Linked DNA regions of Homo sapiens. The protein of the gene in region 1 purifies or fractionates together with the protein of each later gene. This does not show direct contact. Each region holds a gene or a part of one and is shown in the gene's direction. Other genes may lie near its edges.

The links.
Region 2: the proteins of GART (region 1) and SEPHS1 fractionate together in Homo sapiens (co-fractionation; 2 studies listed by BioGRID). This does not show direct contact.
Region 3: the proteins of GART (region 1) and PAICS fractionate together in Homo sapiens (co-fractionation; 2 studies listed by BioGRID). This does not show direct contact.
Region 4: the proteins of GART (region 1) and DNAJC7 purify together in Homo sapiens (affinity purification with mass spectrometry; 2 studies listed by BioGRID and IntAct, with this or other methods). This does not show direct contact.

What each region holds. Positions count from the first base shown.
Region 1 is NC_000021.9:33,531,892-33,539,257, reverse strand, and holds part of GART (trifunctional purine biosynthetic protein adenosine-3), read left to right. Parts: coding exon 1-87; intron 88-3,937; coding exon 3,938-4,033; intron 4,034-4,504; coding exon 4,505-4,679; intron 4,680-6,801; coding exon 6,802-6,913; intron 6,914-7,366. UniProt on the Homo sapiens protein: Trifunctional enzyme that catalyzes three distinct reactions as part of the 'de novo' inosine monophosphate biosynthetic pathway.
Region 2 is NC_000010.11:13,331,247-13,338,612, reverse strand, and holds part of SEPHS1 (selenide, water dikinase 1), read left to right. Parts: intron 1-2,262; coding exon 2,263-2,370; intron 2,371-4,641; coding exon 4,642-4,796; intron 4,797-7,366. UniProt on the Homo sapiens protein: Synthesizes selenophosphate from selenide and ATP.
Region 3 is NC_000004.12:56,445,960-56,453,325, forward strand, and holds part of PAICS (bifunctional phosphoribosylaminoimidazole carboxylase/phosphoribosylaminoimidazole succinocarboxamide synthetase), read left to right. Parts: intron 1-397; coding exon of another isoform or gene 398-418; intron 419-735; coding exon 736-914; intron 915-2,458; coding exon 2,459-2,638; intron 2,639-2,750; coding exon 2,751-2,864; intron 2,865-4,659; coding exon 4,660-4,743; intron 4,744-5,912; coding exon 5,913-6,093; intron 6,094-7,366. UniProt on the Homo sapiens protein: Bifunctional phosphoribosylaminoimidazole carboxylase and phosphoribosylaminoimidazole succinocarboxamide synthetase catalyzing two reactions of the de novo purine biosynthetic pathway.
Region 4 is NC_000017.11:42,007,230-42,014,595, reverse strand, and holds part of DNAJC7 (dnaJ homolog subfamily C member 7), read left to right. Parts: intron 1-7,366. UniProt on the Homo sapiens protein: Acts as a co-chaperone regulating the molecular chaperones HSP70 and HSP90 in folding of steroid receptors, such as the glucocorticoid receptor and the progesterone receptor.

The sequences.
Region 1 (7,366 bases):
AACTTGCACAGTCTCATCATGTCAAACAAGTGTTGGTTGCCCCAGGAAACGCAGGCACTGCCTGCTCTGAAAAGATTTCAAATACCGGTAATCATGTTTTAAAGTGGGGAGTAATAGTTATTATTTGTTATTAATGGTATGCTGTCAACCATATCTGTACTTTATGTTAATAAAGATAGGCTGGGCACAGTGGCTAATGCCTGTAATCCCAGCACTTTGGGAGGCCGAGATATGCGGATCATGAGGTCAGGAGATGGAGACCATCCTGGCTAACATGGTGAAACCCCGTCTTTACTAAAAATACAAAAAATTAGCCGGGCGTGGTGGCGGGTGCCTGTAGTCCCAGCTACTCGGGAGGCTGAGGCAGGAGAATGGCTTGAACCCAGGGGGTGGAGCTTGTAGTAAGCTGACATCATGCCACTGCACTCCAGCCTGGGCGACAGAATGAGACTCCATCTCAAAATAAAATAAAATATAGACTACTATTCAGGGTTGAGTGCTTTCCTTGACCTTAAAATTTATTTGGTAATTTGAATGCTTGCCAATATGTTATAAACTTAAGGTAACCTATTGTTCAGAATATGGCATTTCCTTATCTTAAACTGTTTTAAACCTGATAAAACACATCCATTGGAAAAGTAGTAAGTGCCTAATACAGATTAAAGGCATTTTGTTGTGTATTTTTGTAAATGGAAAGTTTAGTATTGCTATTAAATACAACTTGCGGCCACGTGCAGTGGCTCACGCTTACAATCCCAGCACTTTGGGAAGCCAAGGCAGAAGGATCTCTTGAGCCCAGCAGTTTGAGACTAGCCAGGGCAATGTAGTGAGACCCGATCTCTACAAAAAAAAAATACAAAAATTAGCCAGGCATGGTGGTGCACATCTGTAGTGCCAGCTACTTGGGCAACAGAGTAAGATGAGAACCTGTCTCACAAAACAAAGTTTTTAACAGTTGTTACTCTAATAGATCTCAACCCTTATCTCTCTCTGACTTTTTTTTTTTTTTTTTTTTTGAGACAGAGTCTCACTCTCACCCATACTGGAGTGCAGTAGCGTGATCTCAGCTCACTGCAACCTCTGGCTCCTGAGTTAAAGCGATTCTTCTGCCTCAGCCTCCCGAGTAGCTGGTACTACAGGTGCATGCCGCCACACCCAGCTAATTTTTTGTTTTTTTAGTAGAGACCGGGTTTCACTATGTTGGTCAGGCTGGTCTCAAACTCCTGACCTCAGGTGATCTGCCCGCCTCAGCCTCCCAAAGTGCTGGGATTACAGGCATGAGCCACCGTGCCCAGCCTCCACCCTTATCTCTCAATTGGCAAAAATGAAAAAATGGTCAGTTCATATACTACATTAAGCTTGTCAGTGGCTTCAGAAACTCCTCAGTATTCTAATAATACTCAGAATAAAACTCAAATTCCTTACCATGCCTTTCAAAGCCCTTTGTGCAGTCTGTCTTCTGCCTGCTCTTCCAGCCTGATCTTTTATATCCCTTTTTCTCTTTTCACTATACCCTATCCATGCTGTCCTACCAATTTCCCAAGCAGAAGCTTGCTGCTTTGGACTTTATATTTGTTCCCACCCCTTACTATGACTGTCTCCTCATTATTCAGAGCTCCACTTAAATGTTAGCCTCCTTAATTATATCTCTCCTACAGTTTCTTACTAAAAGCAAGTGTCCATCCCCATTTCATTTGTTTATGATCATGAATGTCTGTGTTTATTTTTACTTCACTATTGTCTGTCTTCTATGTTCTTTTCCTCCACTAGAATATAATCTCTAGTAGAATGTAAGCTCCATGAGGGCAAGGAACTTGTCTGTCTTGTTTTGCATGGTGTGCACAGTGCTTAGTTCCCTATGTGGCACATAATATTTATGGAAAGAAGAGCATGGACCCAACAAGCCACAAACTGGGAGAAGATAGTGGCATGTATATAAGACCAAAAGGAATAATACAAATTAGCAAATACCTCCTTTTCTGGGATCTTAATTCTACGGGTGAGATATTTGTTTATTAGAGAACTAGGACAGTTTATCTGCGATTGAGGTCATACAGGCAAGCCCATCAAAATCTCTTAAGATCATCATGAGACTACTACAAGTAGTCTTGTAAGACTACTAAAGAGACCTCTTCCTCTTGTTGCCCTCTGCTATACTGATATAGTTGACGCTGCTCAGCCTAGTTGTGTTCAGAACCACTAACCCACAGTGCGTGGTACTCCATCCTAATCACATTCAGGCAGTTGCTGCAGATTGAGGACCCTACCTTTTCTGGACTTGGACCCTATACAGTAGTCACCAGCCTATCCACAATTTTACTTTCCACAGTTTCAGTTACCCACAGTCAGCTGTAGTCCAAAATATTAAATGGAAAATTTCAGAAATAATTCATAAATTTTACATTGCACACCAGTCTAGCATAGCATGATGAAATTTTGTGCCGTCCAACCTGAGACGTGAATCTTTTTGTCCAGCATATCCATGTTGTTACTTACTAGCCCTGTTGGTTATCAGATTGACTATCATATTATCTCAGTGCATGTGTTCAGGTAACCCTGTTTTACTTAATAATGGCCCCAAAGCTGATGCTGGCATATAGTTATAATTGTTCTATTTTAGTATTAGTGATAGTTAATCTCTTACTGTGCCTAATTTGTAAATTAAACTTTATCATAGGTGTTTATGTATAGGAAAAAACATACTATATATATAGCGTTCAGCACTGTGGTTTCAGGCATCCACTAGGGATCTTAGAATGTGTCCTCTAAGGATAAAGAGGGACAACTGTACATCACAAATATCACTTCTTGTACTCTGTACCAATGGCAGAGTGATTGCACACTTCAGCTGACTTAACGAATGGTGGTCCAGGCACAGTGAAGCAGGAGAGCCCCTATGGAGCCAAACCATGTTCAGTATGTGGTTGATCCTACCACTAGTTACTTAGAACTCCACAGAAGAAAATTTACCTGACTTGCAGGTTGGAGAAGACAGGTTCCTCTTAAAAGCGTCATTGAGTTCTTAACTTAAACAGCTCTGCCCCAAAGAGATCCCTCCTGACCCAACCCAAAATAGCCTCTCAATTCACTTCATATCAAATTTGCTTAATTTGTTCATATTTGCTGTTTTTTTGTTTGTATGTTTATTACCCAGCGTTCCTACAGCGTATTGTAAACATGTTAAGTATAGGGACCCTGCTTGTGTTGATAAATTTTTTTTTTTTTGAGACAGAGTTTCGTTCTTGTTATCTACCCAGGCTGGAGTGCAGTGGTGCGATCTTGGCTCACTGCAACCTCCGCCTCCCCAGTTCAAGCGATTCTCCTGTCTCAGCCTCCTGAGTAGTTGGGATTACAGGTGCATGCCCCCACACCCAGCTACTTTTTGTATTTTTAGTAGAGACGGGGTTTCATCATATTGTTCAGGCTGGTCTCGAACTCCTGACCTTAGGTGATCCACCCACCTCGGCCTCCCAAAGTGCTGGGATTACAGGCGTGAGCCACCGCGCCCCGCCGTGTTGACATCTTAATACCAGTGCTGAGGACAGTACTTAGCACATAGTGGATTTTCAGTACAATTGATTGATTGACATTAAAAGACCAATTTCTGAGTATATCTTACGTTTTTTGTTTAATATACAGTCAATATTAGTGACGTGAACAATATCATGGAGGTGATACTTTATGGCTCTTTGGGAAGTTTATTGGTGTTTTCATCTGTCTACAATGATAACGGAGAACTGAGCTCTGTTGGTTAGCCTAATGCACTCTCCTCTGAATTTCACATGTTGAAACTGTCATCTCTGCCAATATAAGAAAACCAACAGATAACAAGCATACTAAAGTATAGAACTTAGTTTTTTTAGTGAGACACTTAGTTTACTTAAGTGGAATGTTTTTGTAAATGCAGTGGTTTTTTTTTTTTTTTTTCTGTTTACAGCCATCTCAATCAGTGACCACACTGCCCTTGCTCAATTCTGCAAAGAGAAGAAAATTGAATTTGTAGTTGTTGGACCAGAAGCACCTCTGGCTGCTGGTAAAGTTTGTTTCTGTTTATTGTTACAGTATATTCAGTGCAAACAGAAGCTTAGGGATCATCTAATCCAATTCATTTTACAGATGAGAATTTGTAATATTATCTTGGAAAAAGAGCTTCCACTCTCGAAATTTATGGAGTCTAGATTTTTTTTCCCAAGCATCAGTTATATGATGAGTTAGAGATCAAATTTGCAGCCATGGAAAACATTTTATATGTCTTTATTCTGCTGTATTCTGGTGTGTGTTTAATAATCCATATATGCAAATATAACAACTTTTGATAGATTTGAATAACATGTTAATAGCATTTTATCTCTATCCAGTAGACAACATGAAAAAGTTAGTTATCCTCTGCCACCAGTCATCTGCCTTGTCTAGATGTAGATATAGTCTGATACTAATTCGTCTTCAGGCTGAAAAGCCCCTGGGGAGACCTTGGTTCACCTAAGGCTACTGTTTTCATCAATAGGGATTGTTGGGAACCTGAGGTCTGCAGGAGTGCAATGCTTTGGCCCAACAGCAGAAGCGGCTCAGTTAGAGTCCAGCAAAAGGTTTGCCAAAGAGTTTATGGACAGACATGGAATCCCAACCGCACAATGGAAGGCTTTCACCAAACCTGAAGAAGCCTGCAGCTTCATTTTGAGGTAGGTAAATGGTTGTCTGTGAAGGACAGTTGTTTAGTTTTGATATTTAAATACACAGGTCAGTGGCCAGGCACAGTAGCTCACCTGTAATCCCAGCACTTTGGGAGGCCAAGGCAGGTGAATCACTTGAGCTCAGGAGTTAGAGACCAGCCTGGGTACCATGGTAAAACCCTGTCTCTACAAAAAATACAGAAAAAAAAAAGCCGGGCATGATGGTGTGCACCTGTAGTCCCAGCTCCTCTAAAGGCCAAGGTGGGAGGATCACTTGAACCCAGGAGGCGGAGGCTGCACTGAGCCAAGATTGTGCCACTGCACTGCAGCCTGGGTGACAGAGTGAGACCCTGTCTCAAAAAAATTAAATAAATATACAGGTCACTTCTGTGTTGAAAATGTAATGCTAGGTCTTTAGGCTGTCTCAAGATGTAGTAAGATAATTAAGGAAAAAACTTTCTCAATAAATATTATGTGGGTTGTCGTTTTCCAGAACCAAAATAAAATGGGATCCTATGCATACAGAGTTTATATGATCTTGTGGCCTTGCAGGAAGATGACATTTTTAATAAAATCTGAGTAGTTCCTCAGGGGAAAAATACACTTGGTTCTGCAGTTGTGCGCTCTTCACAGCCATGTTTTTGGTTTTTGGTTCCCCGCCCCCCACCACCACCCCCCAACCTGAGACGGGGCCTCTCTCTGTCACCCAGGCTGGAGTGCAGTGGCGTGATCTTGGCTCACAGCAGCCTCTGCTTCCTGGACTCAAGTGATCCTCCCACCTCAGCCTCCCAAGTAGCTGGGACAATAGGCACACACCACTACTCCCAGCTAGTTTTTATATTTTTTGTAGAGACGGAGTTTTACCATGTTTCCCAGGCCGGTCTCAAACTCTTAAGCTCAAGAGATCCGCCTCTCTCTGCCTCCCAAAGTGCTGGGATTACAGGCATGAGCCGTAACACTAGGCCTCACGGTCAGATTGACAAACGCAGTGGCATCTTACAACATAAAGAACATTGATTTTTTTTGTCATAAATAATTAACCAGAGTGAGTAATCATCACTTGGTCATCTGCCACCACTATTGCCATTTTATTTTATTTATTTATTTATTTATTTTTATTTTTATTTATTTATTTATTTTTTTTTTTTTGAGTCTCGTTCTTTCACCCAGGCCGGACTGCAGTGGCGCTATCTCTATCTCGGCTCACTGCAAGCTCCGCCTCCCAGGTTCATGCCATTCTGCTGCTTCAGCCTCCCGAGTAGCTGGGAATACAGGCGCCCACCACCACTCCAGGCTAATTTTTTGTATTTTTAGAAGAGACGGGGTTTCACTGTGTTAGCCAGGATGGTCTCGATCTCCTGACCTCGTGATCCGCCCGCCTCGGCCTCCCAAAGTGCTGGGATTACAGGCGTGAGCCACCGCGCCTGGCCACTATTGCAATTTTAAATTTCAAAATTAAACATCCTTTGTTCTCTATTATGTGGAAAGCATTGAGCAATTAATGAGTGTTAGTAGACACATGCATTTGCCCTTTTTTTGTTGGCACTTCTGCTTCCTGGTTATGTTTTCCTTTCAGTTGTGTCAGTTTCATTTTTTTTTCATTCATATCCTAAAGAGTTTCTTAAACACTGAATATTATTATTTCCTAGCAGCCAGATGCCTTGAGCAAGTAACAGTTTTGTTACTTACTTTGGGTAAGTCTCCTTCCAGACCCCCAGGCCCACTTGATAATTTCATATGTGTACTCCCAGAAATGGTCTGTGTATGCTTACTGTTGTTATACAGCCGCATTTTCTACCTGAATGAGAGTACTATTTGCTACTTTGTATCTTAGAGATTATGCCATATCTACTCTATACATCTACTTATTCTTCCAAAGATATTGCCTATGTAATCTCATGATAAATGAAAAAAGCAAAATTGTAGGTACTGTATGATTGGAACTACAAAGGAATACGTAGGGGAAAAAATCCTGGTGGGAAGTACATCAAAATGTGTTGGAATGATAATTAATTTTTTTCTTTCTGCTTTTCAGTCATTGCTATAGCATATCGTTACAAAATCCCACAGCATTTTAAAATCTTGAGTTGTAATGGTTTATTGGATGTTGACGATTACTCTGTCTTTACAGTGCAGACTTCCCTGCTTTGGTTGTGAAGGCCAGTGGTCTTGCAGCTGGAAAAGGGGTGATTGTTGCAAAGAGCAAAGAAGAGGCCTGCAAAGCTGTACAAGAGATCATGCAGGTAGGCTGGGTCTTCTGAAAAAATTTACTTTTCTATTCATACTGAATAAATACCGTTTTAAGTTTAAAAAATGTTCCTCACAATAAGGAAAATCTATTTTGCAAACATATGGGTAAGTTATTTTTTATAATCCCATGTATTATAATCCATCTCTATAAAATAGTTATGGATTTACACTGTAAATTAAACCATGATTGTATTATTTTGAAGTAAATTGTAACATCCTTTGTTGTCTGCCACTGAAAGAAAATCCTCAGACTCTAGAACATATAAATAAATTATCAAGCCATCCATGAGGACAAAAGTATTTGTCCCACATGTCCCGGGTCTAAGAGAAGTAAATTAATGAATGAATATGCCTTGTCTTTCGTGATCGATCTTTGTTGTTGTGGGTTTTCTGTCCTTGTAGAAGTCTACTTTCACAAGCATGCTTTAGTATAGTTATTACAGCCA
Region 2 (7,366 bases), on another chromosome or scaffold:
GGTTTTATTTCTGTTATATCCCGACTATACTGCCCCACCCTGCCCAGACTCCTGCAGTTGCTGAAGTCAGGCCTGTCCCCTGCCCACACTTGGCACTGGGCATAAAGCAATTAGGGAGGAAGCAGGGAAGGCCCTCTGCTGCTGTTGCAACTGAGTACATGCTGTGAGTAAGAACACCTCTTGTTTAGTAGCATGTCAATGGCCTGTTTTTGTCATTTTCTTCTTTCTTGCACCTTCTCTTCTTTGACATTGGTAACCTCCATCACCCCTGTGTTTTAGGCTGGAGATGTTACTGTCCTCTGTAATAGGACTGATCCTAAATGTTTCCTTCAAGAGATTAAGGAGCTAGTATCTCATCACAATTAGATGCCTCAAACATTAATTCGGATATCTGGTTAATTCACTCAACCCAGCCACTTGCACACCCACCACCGTGTGATGTGCCGCTGTACATAGTAGGTTTCTGACCACTGAGTTAAAGTTCCTGGCTACTGATGATACACTGCTGAGGTGTGTTCCCCAGTTGTTTACTGCGTAGTTGCAGCCAGCCACCCTTTGATCCACCCAACCTTTAACCCCAATTTGCTACCACCCAGGAGGAGCCAGTGGAGAGACTAGGAAAATCTGGTTTGCTATAAAATGCCAGGTGTTCTTCGTGTGTGGCAAGGACAGTGGGATCAGGCTGCACTGTAGGGACTTTATCATGAGGCAGCCACGTGGGGGGTGTTCACCCTCAGGTACCAGTGACAAATACCAGATTATTGGAAACCTATATTTCTTCCGCACATCTGTCCGTTTTCTCCTCTGGAGCAATACTCTTGAGACTGGGCAGGTAAGCCACAGCCCAGGTCCCACATGACCAGGTGGCAGGGATGGCTAAAACCACAGTCCATTGTTTTCCAGCATCTCCTAAAATGAGAGCACCCAGAACAGAAGGGGCGCTAAATCACCACCCCCCTAACTAGCGATTGGCTTGTGCGAGTTGTAGACCACCTGTTGGCCTTGTGGACTGGCTTGATGATACTGAAAGTGTGGCCACAGATGGTTGTTGAGCTGCATTGCTGACCTCCAGGAATGTATAAGAAAGCCTAAAGCAAGCAATTAAACAGCCACTGGAAGTGATAACACTTGGGAGTTTGATTATCCTTATGTCAGAAGGAAAATTTGTATTTTCTCTTTATTGTCTATAAAAGATAAAAATTTAGATAAGGGCAACTTAACTTTTAAAAATCTCCAGTGGCAATAAAAAAATCTTCATTACCACATTTCTGTTGAATTGTATTTTAAAGTTCCTAATAAAATGACATCATTTACTGGGAAATGCTTCTTTTTCTTTTGAAAACAATATGACTTCAGCCCTGGGTATTTTTTTATTTGTTTCTTAAGATGATTTTTCTGTTTATCTCATACATCCTTGAAAAGAAGCTACAAAAATTTTTTTTGTTTTTTTTTTGTTGTTGTTTATTGACAGTCTTGCTCTGTTGCCCAGGCTAGAGTGCAGTGGCACGATCTCAGCTTACTGCAACCTCCACCTCCCAGGTTCAAGCAATTCTCATGCCTCAGGCTCCCAAGTAGCTGAGACTACAGGTGTGCACCACCATGCCCAGCTAATTTTTATATTTTTAGTAGAAACAGCATTTTACCATGTTGGCCAGGCTGGTCTTTAACTCCTGGCCTCAAGTGATCCACCTGATTCGGCCTCTCAAATTGCTGGGATTACAGGCGTGAGCTATCACACCCAGCCTAAGCTGCAAACATTTCTTAATCCAAGTGCACAAAGACTATCTCCATCTCTATAACCACTAAAGCCAGCCATTTTTAGAATCTGTTTGGGATATGTGGCTGTTTCCAACTTTTCTTTAGGAGAGTTGTTTGCAGGCTTTTTCGCTCCATAGCTCTTCCCCCAAGACTGTCGGTTCTAAACTTGCTTCTCCTCCTCATTCGCTGCACATATACCCCTTCCCCTATCTAAATAAATTGCAGACTTCTAAAATTTAGAATGGAGAAAAACTGGTACATTCTTTGTCCTGCACAAGAAAGAGGTGGTAACAGGAATGTCTGAGAAAAAACGAATGGCCTAGTGACTCTGTGATGCAGGAAAGGTTGCCAGTCTGCAAATCATAGAAACTGAGGACCCCATCCTAGTAGCTGCTACTCCTGGAAAGTCTCCACGTTCTCTGTGGAGTCCACTCCATGGCTCACTCAGTTTCTGCAGATGGAAAGTCCCCGGTCGTCCTTTCTCATGTTTCCCTCTCTTCCCAGGGCAGGATAGCGTGTGCCAATGTCCTCAGTGACCTCTATGCAATGGGGGTCACGGAATGTGACAATATGCTGATGCTCCTTGGAGTCAGTAATAAAATGACCGACAGGGTAAGTAGGAGCTACCCGGCTGCTGCCTGGTCCGTGTTGTCCCGGTGGCATCTCTGGCCTTGGTTAGACTTGGTTTCCCATCTAGAAAGCGAGGAGCCCAGGCCATATGGCTCCCTGCACTCCTTCTGGCTCTCCACTTTTTGGCAGTTACCAGTAAATTAAAATGAGGAAGCCTGGCCTAGTCATCTCTGCACTTCTGCCACCTGCTCCCTTTCTCTCTTCCCAGTAGACTGAAACCAAGACTTTTTTTTTTTTTTTTTTTGAGACAGGAGTCTCACTCTGTCGCCCAGGCTGGAGTGTAGTGGCGCAATCTCAGTCCACTGCAACCTCCGCCTCCCGGGTTCAAACAATTCTCCTGCCTCAGCCTCCCAAGTAGCTGGGATTACAGGCACGTACCACCACACCTGGCTATTTTGTGTATTTTTATTAGAGACGGGGTTTTATCACGTTGGCCAGGCTGTTCCTGAACTCCTGACCTCAGGTAATCCACCTATCTCGGCATCCCAAAGTGCTGGGATTGCAGGCGTGAAACACCGTGCCCGGCCCAAGGCATTTGTGTATATTTTTTTTTGTTTTATTGAGACAGAGTCTCACTCTGTCACCCAGGCTAGAGTGTAGTGGCACAAGCTCAGCTCACTGCAACCTCCACCTCCCAGGTTCAAGCGATTCTCCTGCCTCAGCCTCCCAAGTAGCTGGGATTACAGGGGCACACCAGCACCCCCAGCTAATTTTTATATTTTCAGTAGAGATGGGGTTTCACCATGTTGGTCAGGCTGGTCTCGAACTCCTGAGCTCGTGATCCACCCACTTCGGCCTCCCAAAGTGCTGGGATTATAGGCATGAGCCACCGTGCCCGACCTGTGCATTTTTTAAAATAAAGTTTTGGCCATAGTAATGGTGCCTCAGTGTGAATCAGGCACAGCCTTACAGATGTGGGACACGTGGCACTTAGAGGGCACTCCCTCTGCTGTGGCTGGGGATGTCGTGGACGTAGATGGTGACGGGGGATAGGGCCACCAGGGGCTCACGCCTCTGTGTCATCGCCTAGCATTCTGTGCCCTTGCTGCCTGAACCTGTTCTTTGAACCAGAGATGAATTCCTATTTAGATAGACAGGTACTTGTTTTTGTCCCAAGAGCCCCCAACAGTTTGCCCTGCCTTAGAGAAACTTGAGTTTCCAGTAGGCTCTTTCCTGCCCTTGAACATGGGCTGTAGTCATCAGTGGTGCATGGTGGTCTTGGCGCAGGCTCTGTCAGTGTGGGTTACTCGTAGCCTGCAGCCAAGCCTTGGTAGGATGGATGCCTACTGCAGGGCAGGGGACCTGTGCTTAGGAAGCCAGTCTTGAGATTCTCAAGGAGCACTGGACAGCTGGCTTCCAGCAGTCATCAGACCTAGGGCTGGTCCTGTGCACTGAGTCCAGACAATGTTGGTGTCTGGGCTTTATTTACATTGTTGTCTAGAACATCTTCCAGCATTGGATAAAATGATGACAATGTGAAATATTTTCTAGCTTTTGTTTTTGTTTGTTTTTGAGACAAGATCTCCCTGTGTTGCCCAGGTTGGAGTGCAGTGGTGTGATGAGAGCTCACTGCAGCAGCCTCAGCCTCCCGGGCTCAAGACATCCTCCCACTTCAGCCTCCGGAATAGCTGGGACCACAGGCACATGCCACCACACCAAGCAATATTTTTTTTTTTTGTTTTTGAGATGAAGTCTCACTCTTGTGCCCAGGGCTGGAGTGCAGTGATGCGATCTTGGCTAACTACAACCTCTGCCTCCCAGGTTCAAGCGATTCTCCTGCCTCAGCCTCCCAAGTAGCTGGGATTACAGGCGCATGCTACCACACCCGGCTAATTTTTGTATTTTTAGTAGAGACGGGGTTTCACCATGTTGGCCAGGCTGGTCTCAAACTCCTGACCTCAGGTGATCTGCCCGCCTCAGCCTCCCAAAGTGCTGGGAATACAGGCATGAGCCACTGTGCCCGGTCACCCAGCAATTTTTACATGTTTCGTAGAGAAAGGGGTCTGTCTGCATTGCCCAGACTGGTCTTAAACTCCTGGGCTCAAGCTCTCTGCCCACCTCGGACTCCCAAAGTGCTGGGATTACAGGCGTGAGCGATTATGCCTGGCCCCTAACAACCTTCCCTGTCTGTAAACTTTGAGGACTTCCTTTAGGATTTTATGGTTCTTTTTATAACTGTAAGTGTAAAAACCTTCTTTTCTGGGTTTTGAACAGAATTCTTTGACTTTTTATTTGTACCTTTTTCAACCTTAGGAAAGGGATAAAGTGATGCCTCTGATTATCCAAGGTTTTAAAGACGCAGCTGAGGAAGCAGGAACATCTGTAACAGGCGGCCAAACAGTACTAAACCCCTGGATTGTCCTGGGAGGAGTGGCTACCACTGTCTGCCAACCCAATGAATTTATCATGTAAGTTGATTTTTGTTTCATATCACCTGACCTGTTTTTCTCTCTCTGTCCTCTCTTTTTAAAAATTGATGTATTAAGGTCAGGTGCAGTGGCTCACACATATGATCCCAGACTTTGGTAGGCCGAGGCGGGCAGATCACCTGAGGTCAGGAGTTTGAGACCAGCCTGGCCAATGTGGCGAAACCCTGTCTCTACTAAAAATACAAAAATTAGCCAGGCATGGTGGGGCAAGCCTGTAGTTTCAGCTACTCTGGAGGCTGAGGCAGGAGAATCGCTTGAACCCCAGGGGTGGAGGTTGCAGTGAGCTGAGATCATGCCCCTGCACTCTAGCCTGGGCAACAGAACAAGATTCTGTCTCCAAAAAAAAAAAAGACAAGAACGCAAGGCTGGGCGCGGTTGCTCATGCCTGTAATCCCAGCGCTTTTGGAGGCCAAGGCGGGTGGATCACCTGAGGTTGGGAGTTTGAGACCAGCCTGACCAACATGGAGAAACCCCATCTCTACTAAAAATACACAATTAGCCAGGCATGATGGTACATGCCTGTAATCCCAGCTACTTGGGAGGCTGAGGCAGGAGAATCACTTGAACCCAGGAGGCTGCGGCTGCAGTGAGCCAAGATCGCGCCACTGCACTCCAGCCTGGGCAACAAGAGCGAAACTCCATCTCAAAAAAAAAAAAAAATAGATGTATTAAGATATAATTTGCGTACTATACCATTCACCCATTTAAAGAGTCAGTGGTTTGGAGTATACTCAGAGTTGTACAGCCATTACCGGAGTTGATGTTAGGATGTTTTCATTGCTACAGGAAGAAACCCCATCCTCCTCGGCTCTCACTGTTCACTCCTGCTCCATCCTGGATTTTGTCACTTAGCATAGTATTAGCATACTTTTAAGGGTCATCTATTTTGTAGCATGTGTCAGTATTTTAATCCTATTTTTAAGACATTTTAGGTGTTTTTGTTTTTTTTTTTTGAGACGGAGTCTTACTCCGTCGCCCAGGCTGGAGTGCAGTGGTATGATCTCGGCTCACTGCAAGCTCCATCTCCCGGGTTCATGCCATTCTCCTGCCTCAGCTTCCCGAGTAGCTGGGACTACAGGCACCTGCCACCATGCCCGGCTAATTTTTTGTATTTTTAGTAGAGATGGGGTTTCACCATGTTAGGCAGGATGGTCTCGATCTCCTGATCTCATGATCCGACCGCCTCAGCCTCCCAAAGTGCTGGGATTACAGGCGTGAGCCACCGCGCCCGGCTGACATTTTAGGTTTTTTAGTTGAAGTATAATTCACGTAACAAAATTTCACATAACATAGAATTCAGCATTTTGAAGTACACAATGTGTTGGTTTTTAGTATTGACAAGGTTGTGCACCCATCACCACTATCCAATTCCAGAATGTTTTCATCACCCCAAAAAGAAGCCCTGTAGCTCACTCCCATTTCCCTCCTGCTCCCATCCTCTGGCAACCAAGAATGTGCTTTTGTCTCTAAGGATTTGCCTGTTCTGGACATTGTATAGAAATGGAATCGTGCAGCATGACATGCTGTGTCTGGCTTCACTCCCATAGCGGAATGTTTTCCGGGTCCATCCGTGTTGTAGCATGAATCGGTATCGCATTCCTTTCCATGGCTGTATAATCCATTGCATGGATGGACCCTGCTTTATTTAGCCATTCCTCAGGTGACGGACCTTTGGGTTGTTTCCACCTATTAGGAATGATGCTGCCATGAACATTCTAAGTTTTTGTGTGGACATAAGTTCCGGTCTCTTGGGTGTATACCTAAGAATTGACTGGGTCATGTGGTAATTATGTTTAACTTGAGGAATCATCAGACTGGTCTCCAACATGGCTGCGCCATTTTACGTTCCCAGCAGCAATGTATGAGGATTCCAATTTCTCTATGACCCCTCCAGTACTTGTTTTCCTGTCTGTCTTTTGGATTCTAGCCAGCCTACTGGGTGTGAAGTGGAATGTCTTTGTGGTTTTGATTTGTGTCTGCCTGATGACTGATGAGGCCGAGCATCTTTTCATGTGCTTACTACCCATTTGTGTATCTTCTTTGGAGAAGTTTCTCTCCTAACCAAGTTGTCACTTTCCATGTTTGATGTCTTGTTAAGAAAAGTCAGTCTTTTGGCCGGGCGTGGTGGCTCATGCCTGTAATCCCAGCACTTTGGGAAGCCAAGACGGGTGGATCATCTGAGGTCAGGAGTTCAAGACCACCCTGGCCAACATGGTGAAACCCTGTCTCTACTAAAAATACAAAAAATTAGCCGGGCACGATGGCAGGCGCCTGTAATCCCAGCTACTCAGGAGACTGAGGAGAGTGGTTTGAACCCAGGAGGCGGAGGTTGCAGTGAGCCAAGATCGTGCCACTGTACTCCAGCCTGGGTGACAGAGTGAAACTCAGTTTCAAAAAAAAAAGATCTAGAATTAGAAATACCATTTGACCCAGCAATCCCATTACTGGGTATATACCCAAAGGATTATAAATCATGCTGCTGTAAAGACGCATGCACACATATGTTTATTGCAGCACTATTCACAATAGCTAAGACTTGGAACCAACTC
Region 3 (7,366 bases), on another chromosome or scaffold:
TCCTGCTATACCTAATACTAGCTGACATTACTACTGTGTCTTAGTGTCCTTACCTGTTTTGTTGATCTTAATAGTATCTTATCAAATGTTATGAGGATTAAACAAAAAAGATGTATTTAAAATGGTTGGAACAATATCTGCCATAAAATAGGCTCCTGATATTTTTTAAAAGAAAATTGTGATAAATACATAAAATTTACCAGTTTGACCATTTTTAAGTGTCCAATTCAGTGGCATTATGTGCATTCACAATGTTGTACATTCATCCCATTATCCATTTCCAGAACTTTTTCATCATCCCAAACAAACTGTGTAGCATTAAACAATAACTATTCCTCCCACTCCTCAGCCCTTGGTAACTTCCATTCTCTTTTCTGTCTGAATTTGCCTATTCTAGTTACCTCATATAAGTCAAATCGTAAGTATTTGTTCTTTTGCATTTTGTGTTTTTCATTTAGCCTAGTGTTTTTAAGCTTCATCCATATTATATAGCATGGATGTATCAGGAATTTCGTTCCTTTTTATGGCTGAACAATACATTGTATGTATAGTCATGTGCTGCTTACTGTTTGAGTCAACAACTGACCGCATCTACATTAAATAAAGAGAAAAATTACACTTATTTTTGATAGAGGTTCTTTGTTGCTTGTAAAGGGTAGAGTTTTATTGTGCCTCAGATCTACCTTTTTACATATCATTTCAATACCTTTTTTAACTTTGGTTATCAATATGTAGGTATTAAAACTGCCTTCACCAGAAAATGTGGGGAGACAGCTTTCATTGCACCGCAGTGTGAAATGATTCCAATTGAATGGGTTTGCAGAAGAATAGCAACTGGTTCTTTTCTCAAAAGAAATCCTGGTGTCAAGGAAGGATATAAGTTTTACCCACCTAAAGTGGAGTTGTTTTTCAAGGTAATTATCTTATGCCTCTGTTTTATGTCTTACTGTAACACGGCAATAAATTTATAATTAGAAACTCTAAAGGTTTAAATATTCAAGCAAAGTTTTTGATATTTTGATATTGCAAATGTCATTCCAAAATTTGTCTTATCTAGTTGCCAATGTCAATAATGTACACTTCCATTAACAATGATAAATCAAATTTTAAAAAGAAAGCATCTGAAAATCTTACCTTTGAACCAAGATGACTAACAGGAAGAAGAGAAAAGTAACATTTAGTTAATTTTTTTAAAATTTAGTTGAAATCTTTTTATATTCTAATACAGGAAAACTATACTAACAATGTCTCTTGTAAGTGAAAATATATAAATAAAGGTTGTAAGAATCAGTGGTTATGAATTTTGTAGGCTTTACTGCTTTTAACCATCTTGATTTATGCTGTTAAGCATAGATCTGCTTGGGAAGCAATATCAGTCTTGCTTTTTAATCAATGAGTTATGTAACTTGTGTGTATTATGATTATATAGATCAAGAATTTATAAAGATATTGTCATGTAAAGTTGGGACACTGCTGAGAATAAAATGAAATTATTTCATTTTTTTCACTTACCTCTTTGTCTGAGGTCTCTTGAATTATCAAATAATGTCCCTAAAAAATTATAGTGCTGTATAAATTCTAATAAAAAGTGAGGTTGGGAGGTTATGAGAACGGTGGTTTTGGAAAGATTTGATTGATTAAAATGTGCTTTGGCCTTCCTGTCATGTCTGATGACTGTTATTAAGGAAAAACAAAAATCACAAACTTAAATTCTGTTTAAATTGGTTTATAGAGGTTAAATTCTTTGAAATACTTTGTGACCTAGAATAAGTTACTCACCTAAATACTTTGAATTTTAAAGTGCTATTGAGAGTAAACAAATTAAGAGTAATAGTTTTTTCTGCTTGCAGGAGCTAACTAGGAAAAAAAAGAGGAGTAATAATTGCTTTGAATTAAGGAGTATCGTAAACAAAAAATTTCTTTAGATGTCTCATTTTGTTGCCCAGGCTGCTCTTGAACTCCTAGGCTCAAGCGATCCTCCTGCTTCAGCCTCCTAAATTACTGGGACTACAGTGTGAGCCACTGCACCTGGATCAAAATTTCTTTTCTTTTTTTTTTTTTTTTTTGAGATGGAGTCTCCCTCTGTTGCTTAGGCTAGAGTGCAGTGGCGCTCTCTCAGCTCACTGCAACCTCCACCTCCCGGGTTTAAATGATTCTCCTGCCTCAGCCTCCCAAGTAGCTGGGATTACAGGTGCACACCACCACACCCAGCTAATTTTTTGTAATTTTAGTAGACAGGGTTTCACTGTGTTGGCCAGGCTGGTCTCGAACTCCTGATCTTGTGATCCGCCCACCTCAGCCCCCTAAAGTGCTGGGATTACAGGCATGAGCCACCATGCCCGGCTGTGGCTAAAAATTTCTAAGGAGTTCATGCTCAAGGTGAAAAGGATGTTGGTTTTTCTGAAAAGTTTAAAAATTTTAGATTGAAGTTAATTGTACTACTATACTTTATTCACAGGATGATGCCAATAATGACCCACAGTGGTCTGAGGAACAGCTGATTGCTGCAAAATTTTGCTTTGCTGGACTTCTTATAGGCCAGACTGAAGTGGATATCATGAGTCATGCTACACAGGCTATATTTGAAATACTGGAGAAATCCTGGTTGCCCCAGAATTGTACACTGGTTGATATGAAGGTACAGATAAAACAAGTACAGATAAAACAACAGGATTTGAAAGTAAAGGTTATAGTTGAGAGATGCTTTCATAAAATAGTTTTTGAAAACTTTGTTGACATGCTGTTTCCAGATTGAATTTGGTGTTGATGTAACCACCAAAGAAATTGTTCTTGCTGATGTTATTGACAATGATTCCTGGAGACTCTGGCCATCAGGAGATCGAAGCCAACAGAAAGACAAACAGGTAGATAATGCTTCAGGTTTTTTTATCCTTTTTGAGATCAAGCTGAGATAGAGGAGAAAGGAGAGATGAGGGGAAAAAGCAAATTATTGTTCCTAATGATATGAACCTGTTTTGTGGATTGCTGTTTATTTTTAAAGATAAATGTCTCTGGTATCCTAATAGAAGAATAATAGGAATAATACTTTACATTTATAAAGCAAATTTCTCATCTGTTATCTTAATAACATTGTCACAACAGTAACAGCAAGTATTATCTTTGTTTGGCTAAATGAAAACTAAGGGTCTTAAGAGGATGGGTATCTTCACAATTACTAGAGTCAGGGACAGATCTGGGACTCTATTCCAAGTCTCCTGCATGTTACCAGGCCACATTTCTGCTCCTATATAAAACAACAGACACTTCTCAAAAGAAGACATTTATGCAGCCAACAAACATGAAAAAAAGCTCATCATCACTGATCATTAGAGAAATGCAAACCTAAACCACAATGAGATACCATCTCACACCAGTCAGAATGGCTGTTTTAAAAAAGTCAGGAAACAACAGATGCTGGAGAGGCTATGAAGAAATAGGAACGCTTTTACACTGTTGGTGGGAATGCAAATTAGTTCAGCCATTGTGGAAGACAGTGTGGTGATTCCTCAAGGATCTAGAACCAGAAATACCATTTGACCCAGCAATCCCATTACTGGGTATATACCCAAAGGAATATAAATCATTCTACTGTAAAGACACGTGCACAGGAGCAGCACTATTTACAATAGCAAAGACATGGAACCAACCCAAATGCCCATCAGTGTTAGACTGGATAAAGAAAATGTGATATACACACACCATGGAATACTATGCAGCCATAAAAAAGAATGAGATTGGCCAGGCGCGGTGGCTCACACCTATAATCCCAGCACTTTGGGAGGCCAAGGCAGGTGGATGACAAGGTCAGGAGTTCAAGACCAGGCCAAGATAGTGAAACCTTGTCTCAAAAAAAAAAAAAAAAAAAAATTAGCCAGGCATGGTGGTGGGCACCTGTAATCCCAGCTTCTCGGAAGGCTGAGGCAGAGAATTGTTTGAACCCGGGAGGTGGAGGTTGCAGTGAGCCGAGATTGTGCCACTGCACTCCAACCTGGTTGACAGAGCGAGACTCTGTCTCCAAAAAAAAAAAAAGAAAGAAAAAGAATGAGATCATGTCCTTTGCAGGGAAATGGATTCAGCTAGAAGCCATCATCCTCAGCAAACTAACACAGGAACGGAAAACCAAACACCACATGTTCTCACTCATAAGTGGGAGTTGAACACTGAAAACACATGGACACAGGGAGGGGAACAACACACACCGGGGCCTGTTGCAGGGTGGGGAGCAAGGGGAGGGAGAGCATTAGGAGAAATACCTAATGCATATGGGGCTTAAAACCTAGATGACAGGTTGATGGGTGCAGCAAACTACCATGGCACATGTATACCTATGTAACAAACCTGCACATTCTGCACATGTATTTAAAATAAAAAATAACAGAAAACAAAATTAGAGCAAGACCCTTTCTATACTTAATATATAAAAATTCTCAAGGCAGTTAATTGTAGTTGCTAGTACAGAAAACACTTAACCTTAAGTGAAAATAAAAGTATACTTTACTATGGAACTTTGTTAGTTTAATTCAGGAAGTGAAAAGATGCATTTTCAGAAGTATCCCTTGCTATACAAACTCTTCATAATCCCTCCCCAAAACTCAGAAACCAAATAGTTTCAGGTAGCAAGAGATACTTGTTTTCTAAACTTTCTATCTTATTTTCTAGTCTTATCGGGACCTCAAAGAAGTAACTCCTGAAGGGCTCCAAATGGTAAAGAAAAACTTTGAGTGGGTTGCAGAGAGAGTAGAGGTAAACCTTCTATAGTAAAACTGTATGTATTATGTGTTTTTCTTCTAAGAAAATCTTGTTTCAAAAGAAAAAAAAATGGGAGAGTATAGTGCTTTTCTTTTCAGTGACTTTGTTTTTTGTTGTTGTTTTTTTTGAGACGGAGTCTTGCTCTGTCGCCCAGGCTGGAGTGCAGTGGCGCCATCTCAGCTCACTGCAAGCTCCGCCTCCCGGGTTCACGCCATTCTCCTAGCTCAGCCTCCCGAGTAGCTGGGACTACAGGCGCTGGCCACCACGCCCAGCTAATTTTTTGTATTTTTAGTAGAGACGGGGTTTCACCGTGTTAGCCAGGATGGTCTTGATCTCCTGACCTCGTGATCCCCCTGCCTCGGCCTCCCAAAGTGCCGGGATTACAGGCGTGAGCCACCACGCCCAGCTCTTCAGTGACTTTGAAAGTGAGGAACACTTTTAGGAAATGTATCAGCTGGGCTATCCTTACTAGGATACTGGAACTCCGTGCTGTTAAGCTGGCCAATACATACCTCCCAGATCCTGTTGGGGAAACCTGGAATCTGTCTCCTCCCTACCCCGTAGGAGAAACCTTATATTTCCTACTCACCTGCACTGCTAGTCAGAGTTCCATTAGCATGGGATGGATGGAACTCTGTGTGACTTTAAATATTCCTTTAAGTTTTATGGTATTACTATAATTCTGGGAGTTGAATGGGGTTTGTGATTATGCAAGGGTCATAATCACATTTGAGAACATTATTCTTATAGGAATATATATTTTGAGTTACAAGCAATTAACTTACAAAGACTTAGAACATGACTTCTGATTTGGCTAATCATACCTTAAAGCTTCCATTAAACAAAGTGCACTAAAGGTCTTAGGATGAAATATTTTGTATTATAATTTCCTGAAAATTAAAAGATTTTGAGTATCTTTACTGTTTATTTTAAATAATTTGTCTGATAAAAATTGAATTCTTTAGGTCTTGATGAAGACCACTTTCCTTTATATATTGAGATTTTTAAAAATAAATCCTGTCTTTTTGTTGTTTGTCTCTGTCTTAAATTTGATCTGTTAAGAAAGAAAATATTGGGCCCAGATATAATTTTACTACAAACTCTAGCTCATTTATTCATTTTTGTTTTTATGTTCTTTTCATATCCACGTATTTTTTCTTCAGTTGCTTTTGAAATCAGAAAGTCAGTGCAGGGTTGTAGTGTTGATGGGCTCTACTTCTGATCTTGGTCACTGTGAAAAAATCAAGAAGGCCTGTGGAAATTTTGGCATTCCATGTGAACTTCGAGTAACATCTGCGCATAAAGGACCAGATGAAACTCTGAGGATTAAAGCTGAGTATGAAGGTAAACCACAAGTAATATGGACATTTCAGGTATTTCTGATTTTGCTAAAAGTAATTACACACTTTAGACTAATAATGCTGAAAAAAGAGCTTTGTCAGTTTTCTAAGGGAAAAACACATGATATACTAGGCTTTCTTTTTTTTTGAGATGGAGTCTCACTCTGTCGCCCAGGCTGGAGTACAGTGGCGCCATCTCAGCTCACTGCAAGCTCCACCTCCCGGGTTCACACCATTCTCCTGCCTCAGCCTCCCAAGTAGCTGGGACTACAGGCGCCCACCACCATGCCCGGCTAATTTTTTGTATTTTTAATAGAGACGGGGTTTCACTGTGTTAGCCAGGATGGTCTTGACCTGATCTCATGATCCGCCTGCCTTGGCCTCCCAAAGTGCTGGGATTACAGGCATGAGCCACCACGCCTGGCCGCTAGGCTTTCTTAATACTCACCTCCAAAGAGCTTAAGGTATTCTAGAAGCTTAGAAAAGAAAGGAGCAGGGAGAAATAATTAAAAATGCAAGTATGAAAAGAAAACAAAGACTAGAATGATGAGAACCTCTGGCATCCTTACCTGGTAAGAAGCCCCTGGAGCATTGCTTCTAATATACTCCAATAGAAAATAGGCCCCCACAGTTACAGGAGGCGGGAGGTTAAAATAGCCGGTTCTCCCGGGAATCTTTAGTTGCCACCCTTTCCTGGGAGGCAGTCAGATAGGAAATTAAAGAACAGTTTCAGAATATAGTACATAAAAAATAATGGTATAGCAGTGATCTAAAATAATGGAGCCCTGGGTTTACAACCAAATGTTTCTCAACTGGAAAAAAATGTTGATTATTTCGTGTACAGGTTGTTGCTATGGAAGTGTAGTTACTAATTTTGGGGGAGTGGGAGGTTGGGGGAACTCAGACTCCTTTGATAGCTAATGAATTCTAGAACTCTTTTCAGAAAATTGCAAATACATACAATTTTGGATTCTAGGTTAACAAATCTCTGCTTTAGGAAACAGGAGGATAATTTATAAATTTATCAAAGAATGAATTGCTTAAGAGATTATGTTAAAAAATGTATCAAAGGGCCTTAAAATTTGGGGGACACTATATTAATTAAACTTTCCTTCAACTCTTGTTTGAAGACGTGTCCCTAAACCCCTAGTTTATATTAACTGGTTCTCCCTGCACCAGTTGAGGGACCACCCAGTCAAGAAAGACACCTGTTCAGATGGTGTCATTCTTCACTTTGGCCAGCCTATACAGCAATAGAAGAGGCCTATGAGCTATTC
Region 4 (7,366 bases), on another chromosome or scaffold:
TCAATTAAAAAAAGAAAAAAATGCATTCTTATCAGACTTTTATGTTTCTCATATATAGCACTGTTTTCGACAGACTTAAACATAGTTATTTATTATATACCACTTTTTTGCACAAATCAAAAGGAAAATTGGCTGGGTGCAGTGGCTCACACTTGTAATCCCATCATTTTGGGAGGCTGAGGTGGGCGGATCACGAGGTCAGGAGTTTGAGACCAGCCTGGCCAACATGGTGAAACCCCATCTCTACTAAAAATAGAAAAAATAGCTGGGCGTAGTGGTGGGCACCTGTAATCCCAGCTACTCGGGAGTCTGAGGCAGGAGAGTCGCTTGAACCCGGGAGGCGGAGGTTGCAGTGAGCCAAGGTCACACCATTGCACTCCAGCCTGGGCGACATGGTGAGACTCCATTTCAAAAAAAAAAAAGGAAAATAAGTGAAATAAACAAAAAAATCAGTTTAACTTTTTGCCATATCAGACATCCTTAGAAGAATAAACATTGGCCGGGCGCGGTGGCTTATGCCTATAATCCCAGCACTTTGGGAGGCTAAAGCAGGCTGATCACCTGAGGTCGGGAGTTTGAGACCAGCCTGACCAACATGGAGAAACCCCATCTCTACTAAAAATAGAAAAAAAAAATTAGCCAGGCATGGCGGTGCATGCCTGTAGCCCCACCGACTTGGAGGCTGAGGCAGGAGAATCACTTGAATCCGGTAGGCGGAGGTTGCGGTGAGCCGAGATCGTGCCATTGCACTCCAACCTGGGCGACAAGAGTGAAACTCTGTCTCAAAAAAAAGAATAAACATTAGGCTCTGTTAGTATGAAAAAGCCTTGTTTATGTATGATTTTTCCAGTGCTGAAAATGGGATGGAGATTTAGAAGCTTTGGAGGGAGGTGGTTTTATGTTTTTCATGTGTCCTGGATTCCTCTTGTGTGGCCATAGCAGAGGGCAGTGATAGGGGCATCCCTTACAAATGCCCTTTTACTGTCTGGCTTGGTTAGAGTTCTTTGGCCAAGTTCCTGCCTCTGTTGTTATGGTCCTCCTACCAGTTCATTTAGGGATCAAGAGTTAATGAGTCTCTCGGGTCGTTTTTGTGAGGTCCAGCTTTGTAAGGAGTCCTTCCTTCCTTACGTCTTGGCTTAAGACATGTCCTGCTGCTGCTAAGTTGTCACAGTCCCATAGGGGGGCAAAATGAGAGGAGCTTTTAAGACGGACTTCACGATTGCAGCATTTTAAATGGCTACATGTTTTATTTCCTTAGCTTTAGTGTTTCTGTAGAGAAAAGAGATGGATTTCAATTTTTTTGCATGTCACTCTGACAAAGTTCTGTTTCCCTTACAGCAGCCAAGAAACTAAAATAAGGCTAGGCTTAGTGGCTCATGCCTGTAATCTTAGCACTTTGTGAGGCCAAAATGAGAGGATCGCTTAAGCCCAGTAGTTTGAGACCAGCCTGGGCAACATAGTGAGACTTAGTCTCTATAAAAACATTTAAGGCTGGGTGCGGTGGCTCACGCCTGTAATTCCAGCACCTTGGGAGGCTGAGGCCAGTGGATTGCTTGAGGCCAGGAGTTCGAGACCAACCTGGGCAACGTGGTGAAACCCGCCCCCCATCTCTGTAAAAAAAAAATACAAAAATTAGCAGGGTGTGATGGTGCATACCTGTAGGCCCTGCTACTTGGGACGCTGAGGTGTAAGTATCACCTGAGCTGGGGGAGGTCGAGGCTGCAGTGAGCTGCGATCACACCACTGCACTGCATCCTGGGTGACAGAGTGAAACCCTGTCTCAAAAAAAAGGGTTGGGGCTAAAATAAAAGATATATTAGTTGGCACTCCAAAACAGATCAGGATTCTATGCATGAAGATTATTTCTCTTTGCTCACCAAAACAGGCAAAGCTATTTATGAGCCAGAGGGTTAAACTTCAGATGTTTCACATTTCAACTAACTTAAGGCTTTATATTTTCCTGGGAAGTTGCTGACTGCTTTACCTAATATGGGAATACCTGTCTTGAATTAAGGATCTCTTGTTATATCTCCTGGGCTGGGAAACAGCTTGATCTCTATAGGGAGTCTTTCTTATGGTAAACTTGAGGGATTTCAAATTGTTTTCTTTTCTTTTTGACGGAGTCTCGCTCTGTCACCAGGCTGGAGTGCAGTGGTGTGATCTCAGCTCACTGCAAACTCCGCCTCCTGGGTTCAAATGATTCTCCTGCCTCAGCCTCCCGAGTAGCTGGGACTATAGGCGTGTGCCACCACACCCAGCTAATTTTTGTATTTTTAATAGAGACGGAGTTTTACCATGTTGGCCAGGATGGTCTCGATCTCTTAACCTCATGATCCGCCCGCCTTGTCCTCCCAAAGTGCTGGGATTACAGGCGTGGGCCACTACACCCAACCTCAAATTGTTTTTCAAAGAGAAAACACTTACGTGTCTCAGCATATACCTAGTGTGACTGGACAACAAGATCTAAAAGAATCAAGGGATCCATAGACTTAAGAGTCAGGACATCCTTACCTGATTCCTTGAGCTGATAAACTTAACTTCTCTGTATGTTTTCCTGATGGGCACAAATAAGAGCAATTCTTATTAGGCCCTTACTACCTAGGTATTGTACACTCTTTGCGATTAGGATTTTGCCTTTTATTTCTCTATTCAGATTGTTAATGGGAACAACTGAACTCTCAATTCATGTCCCGGGTTTCCTGTAGTTGCTGTTCGTTTGCTGCAGCTTTGCATGGTGTTTTTGAGTTTGTGGCCTCACTTAACTGAAGAGCTTGTGGGCATGCCTCCCCAGCTTTCTTCCTTACCTGGTTTTAAATTCTTAGGAATGTGTCCTTCTAATCTTCCTCTTGAAGTTTCAGAGCAAGCACCTAGACATTTCAGTAAGCCTCCAAACTGAGTGGGAATTTATCTTTGACCTGGAACCCAAATCAGTGAGAAACACTATTTTCCTTTTGCTGTGCACTAAGTGTAGTCAGATGTGAAGAAATGGGAGATGGGAGGAGAAATAAGTTAAGGAAGGGATAAACCTAGGAATACAGAATTCTCAATACCGGCAAATTAATTGAACCCTGATACTAACAGATGGCAAAGTAGATAATCATAACTGGAGCAAAGGTAGAGTACAGAGAAAGGTTCTCTCTTAGTGCTTTAGTTCAGATCCACATGTTAACTAGTGCCAGAGAAACAAGAATTTTGAGAAAATATAGGGCCAAGTGAGTGGCAGTTGCTTAGAGTCCAGTCCACTCCCAACAAACAGAACTCTGATTGGCCGAAAGCCCAGCCTTATTGTACATTCCAGCCAATCAGGGATTAGTTTAGTCATTGAAGTTTGTATTTTAATGGTTTTGAAAAGCTGAGTACTGGGCACTTGCTTTTTTGTTCTTCGGGACTTTAGAAGTTTGGAGAACAATAGTCAGCAGTTGCCTAGTTGCTTTGTGGCCTGATGCAGAGTCCCTCTGAGAGCCCATTTCTCCCTTACTGCACTAGTCTTTGGTCCCCTTTCTCCAGCACTGAGTGATGTGGAAGTTACTCAGAGGTCTTTCCAGGTATTCTTTTAAACTTTTGAAGTAAGAACAAAATTCAAAGTGCAGTTATCCTAACAGGCTATTCATTTTATTGGAGTGACACTGTTTTTCCTTCTCCCATTCGGATCAAAATGGCAATTCCTATGTTTTACCCTCACCATGGGTAAGAATATGAGTGGTTGAGGCTTTTGAGAATGGTAATAGGAGGAATATATGACTCTCAGGTCTTATTCTGAGACGTGAAATTCTATTGGCATGTGACTTACAATTTGTGTGGGGAGGCCAGATTGTCAGATAAGCAGTGTTAACCATCTCTCTTGATTCTAATATTACTTTTGGAGAGAGTGTGAGGGGCAAGCAGGACCCTCTCTTGTTTTTGGAGTTTCTGTCCTGAGAGTTCTTCCTTGGACAGTTTGCCCTGAGACAGTTAACCACCTGTTGAACTAAGGAACCAAGACAACTTTGAGAAGTGAAATACCGTTGACAATCCAGGCTCCTCCCCACTCTAGTTCCCATCTCCACCCCACCCCACTCCACCCAAAAAAACTCAGGAAGCAGCCTTTATATATATATATTTTTGAGACAGAGTTTCATTCTTGTTGCCCAGGCTGGAGTGCAATGGCGCAATCTTGGCTCACTGCAGCCTCCGCCTCCCGGGTTCAAGCAATTCTCCTGAGTCAGCTTCCTGAGTAGCTGGAATTACAGGCATGCGCCACCACGCCCGGCTAATTTTGTATTTTTTTTTTTTTTTGTAGAGACAGGGTTTCTCCATGTTGGTCAGTCTGGTCTCGAACTCCCGACCTCAGGTGATCCACCCGCCTTGGCCTCCCAAAGTGCTGGGATTATAGGCGTGAGCCACTGCACCCGGCCTAGGAAGTAGCCTCTTTCTTTCTCTCTTTCTGTCTGTCTCTTTCTTTCTTTCTTTCTTTGTGATGGAGTCTTGCTGTGTCTCCAGGCTGGAGTGTGCAATGGCACGATCTCGGCTCACTGCAATCTCCGCTTCCTGGGTTCAAGCTATCCTCCTGCCTCAGCCTCCTGAGTAGCTGGGACTACAGTTGCATGCCACCATGCCCAGCTAATTTTTTATATTTTTAGTAGAGACGGGTTTCACCATGTTGGCCAGGATGGTCTTGATCTCATCACCTCAGGATCTGCCCGCCTCGGCCTCCCAAGTGCTGGGATTACAGGCGTGAGCCACTGCGCCAGGGCAAAGCAGCCTTTTCCTTAATTGTAGTTCCTCAGTTTTAAATTTTTGATGGGTGCTGGTGTCCCTATAGTGGGAGATGTCACAGAATAGGGAACCGAGGGATGGAAAATGGTGGGTTTGGGGATATGTTATGAAAACAAGCCTCTGGCTAATGCTGAAAAGCCAGTGACTTGTATCCTCAGAATGGTTTCAGAGAAGCATGTTTCCCAGAAGTAGCTTCATTGTTGGGTCTCCTCTCCCCAGGGATAAGTGAAGGTTAGGTAGATGTAATAGATTGTGACACCTCTCATTTAAGGACCTAAAATAAATTTCCAACTCACCGTTGAGACAAGTATTTCCAAGTGAATATGTTTCTGCCTGCAGTGATGGGATTTCTGTAGGGATTGAATTGGTTGCTTGCTTTTTCTTCCTTACTGAATAAGGCATAGCCAGCTGCATAGCCAGGCACAGCTTGCTGGCTGGTGTCCGTCCCTGCCTGAACAGTAGGGAGTGCTGCTGCTTTGTGTAGACAGTCTGTGACTCCTCTGGTGCATTTTGGGTCCCTTCTGACTCTGCCCGTGTTGAGGCTTCTCCTTGAATGTCCACCCAGAGGACAATTTGAACTGGTATGTTAAGGAATTTTCTTCATCTTCTGCCTTCTCTTTATTAGCGGAGATGTGTGGAGGGTTGTTCCATTTGTGCTTTAAAGTGAAAACTATCTATTCTGTAGGAAATTGGGTAAAGAAAGCTGAGTAGCAGATAGCTTTGCTAAAAGGTAGCAGTTGGATAGCGCTCACCTTCTATTTTTTTCTGGATGAAGCACCGAGCATAAATACCTTGCCATATTTATAGAATTATTCCAAGTCATATATCTATGGCCCGGCGTGATGGCTCACGCCTTTAATCCCAACACTTTGGAAGGCAGAGATTGGCGGATCACTTGAGGTCAGAAGTTTGAAGACCAGCCTGGCCAACATGGCAAGACCTCATCTCTACTAAAATAAACAAAGATTAGCCAGGCATGGTAGTGGGGCCCTGTAATCTCAGCTACTCAGGAGGCTGAGGCAGGAGAATCACTTGAACCTGGGAGGCAGAGGTTGCTGTGAACTGAGATCACACCACTGCACTCCAGCCTGGGCAACAAGAGTGAGAGTCTGTCTCAAAAAATATATGTCTGACCCGGCGCGGTGGCTCACGCCTGTAATCCCAGCACTTTGGGAGGCCGAGGCGGGCGGATCATGAGGTCAGGAGATTGAGACCATCCTGGCTAACACGGTGAAACCCCGTCTCTACTAAAAATACAAAAAAATTAGCTGGGCGTGGTGGCAGGCGCCTGTAGTCACAGCTACTTGGGAGGCTGAGGCAGGAGAATGGCGTGAACCTAGGAGGCGGAGCTTGCAATGAGCCGAGATGGCGCCACTGCACTCCAACCTGGGTGACAGAGCGAGACTCCGTCTCAAAAAAAAAAATCTATATCTATATATATATATCTATACCTGTGACTTCCACTTATCTATGTGAAACTTATATTGACATTTCACTTGTAGAATAGTAGATTTTTTTTTTTTTCTTTTTTGAGACGGAGTCTCACTCTTGCCCAGGCTGGAGTGCAATGGCACAGTCTCGGCTCACTGCAACCTCCGCCTCCTGGGTTCAAATAATTCTCCCGCCTCAGCCTCCCGAATAGGTGGGATTACAGGCACCCTCCATCATGCCCGGCTAATTTTTGTATTTTTGTAGAGATGGGGTTTCACCATGTTGCCTAGGCTGGTCTTGAACTTCTGACCTCAGGTGATCCACCCTCCTTGGCCTCCCAAAGTGCTGGGATTATAGACATGAGCCACCTTGCCCAGCCTAGATTTTTTTTTAAAAAAGAAACTTCTTACCGGGCACATGCCTGTAATCCCAGCTACTTGGGAGGCTGAGACAGGAGAATCAGTTGAACCTGGGAGGCGGAGGTTGCGGTGAGCTGAGATCACGCCATTGCACTCCAGCCTGGGCAACAAGAGCGAAATTCTGTCTCAAAAAAAAAAAAAAAAAAAAAAAAGGCAGTTTTTTCTGGCCAATTGTGGTGGCTCATCATGTGTGTAATCTTAGCACTTTGGGAGGCTGAGGAGGTGGATTGCCTGAGCTCAAGAGTTTGAGACCAGCCTGGGCAACATAGTGAAACCCCATCTCTACTAAAATACAAAAATTTAGCTGGGCATGGTGGTGCGTGCCTGTAGTCCCAGCTACCAGGGAGGCTGAGGCACAAGAATCGCTTGAACCTGGGAGGTGAAGATTGCAGTGAGCCGAGATCTCACCACTGCACTCTGGCCTGGGCAATAGAATGAGACTGTCTCCAAAAAAAAAGAAATTTTTTTCTTAAAGAAGAATCTAAATGATATGCTTTTGGTAAGATGGAATAGAAGTTAGGCTCCTGGGCTCCTTTTACTTTATTTTGTCATGAAGGTCAGGGAGAGTGCAACATGAAACAGGCCCTGTGACATGCCATTGGGGACAAGAGGTCTCGGACTGTGGGAAGGAGGAAAGAATTTCTACTCTGACTGGCCAAGATCCCGTGAATTCTGAAGGGTGGAGGGCATTTCTAGATCAACAGGCAACTAGTAAGTTTGACTGAATAAAATAAATGGAGCACAACAATCATAGAGTAAGG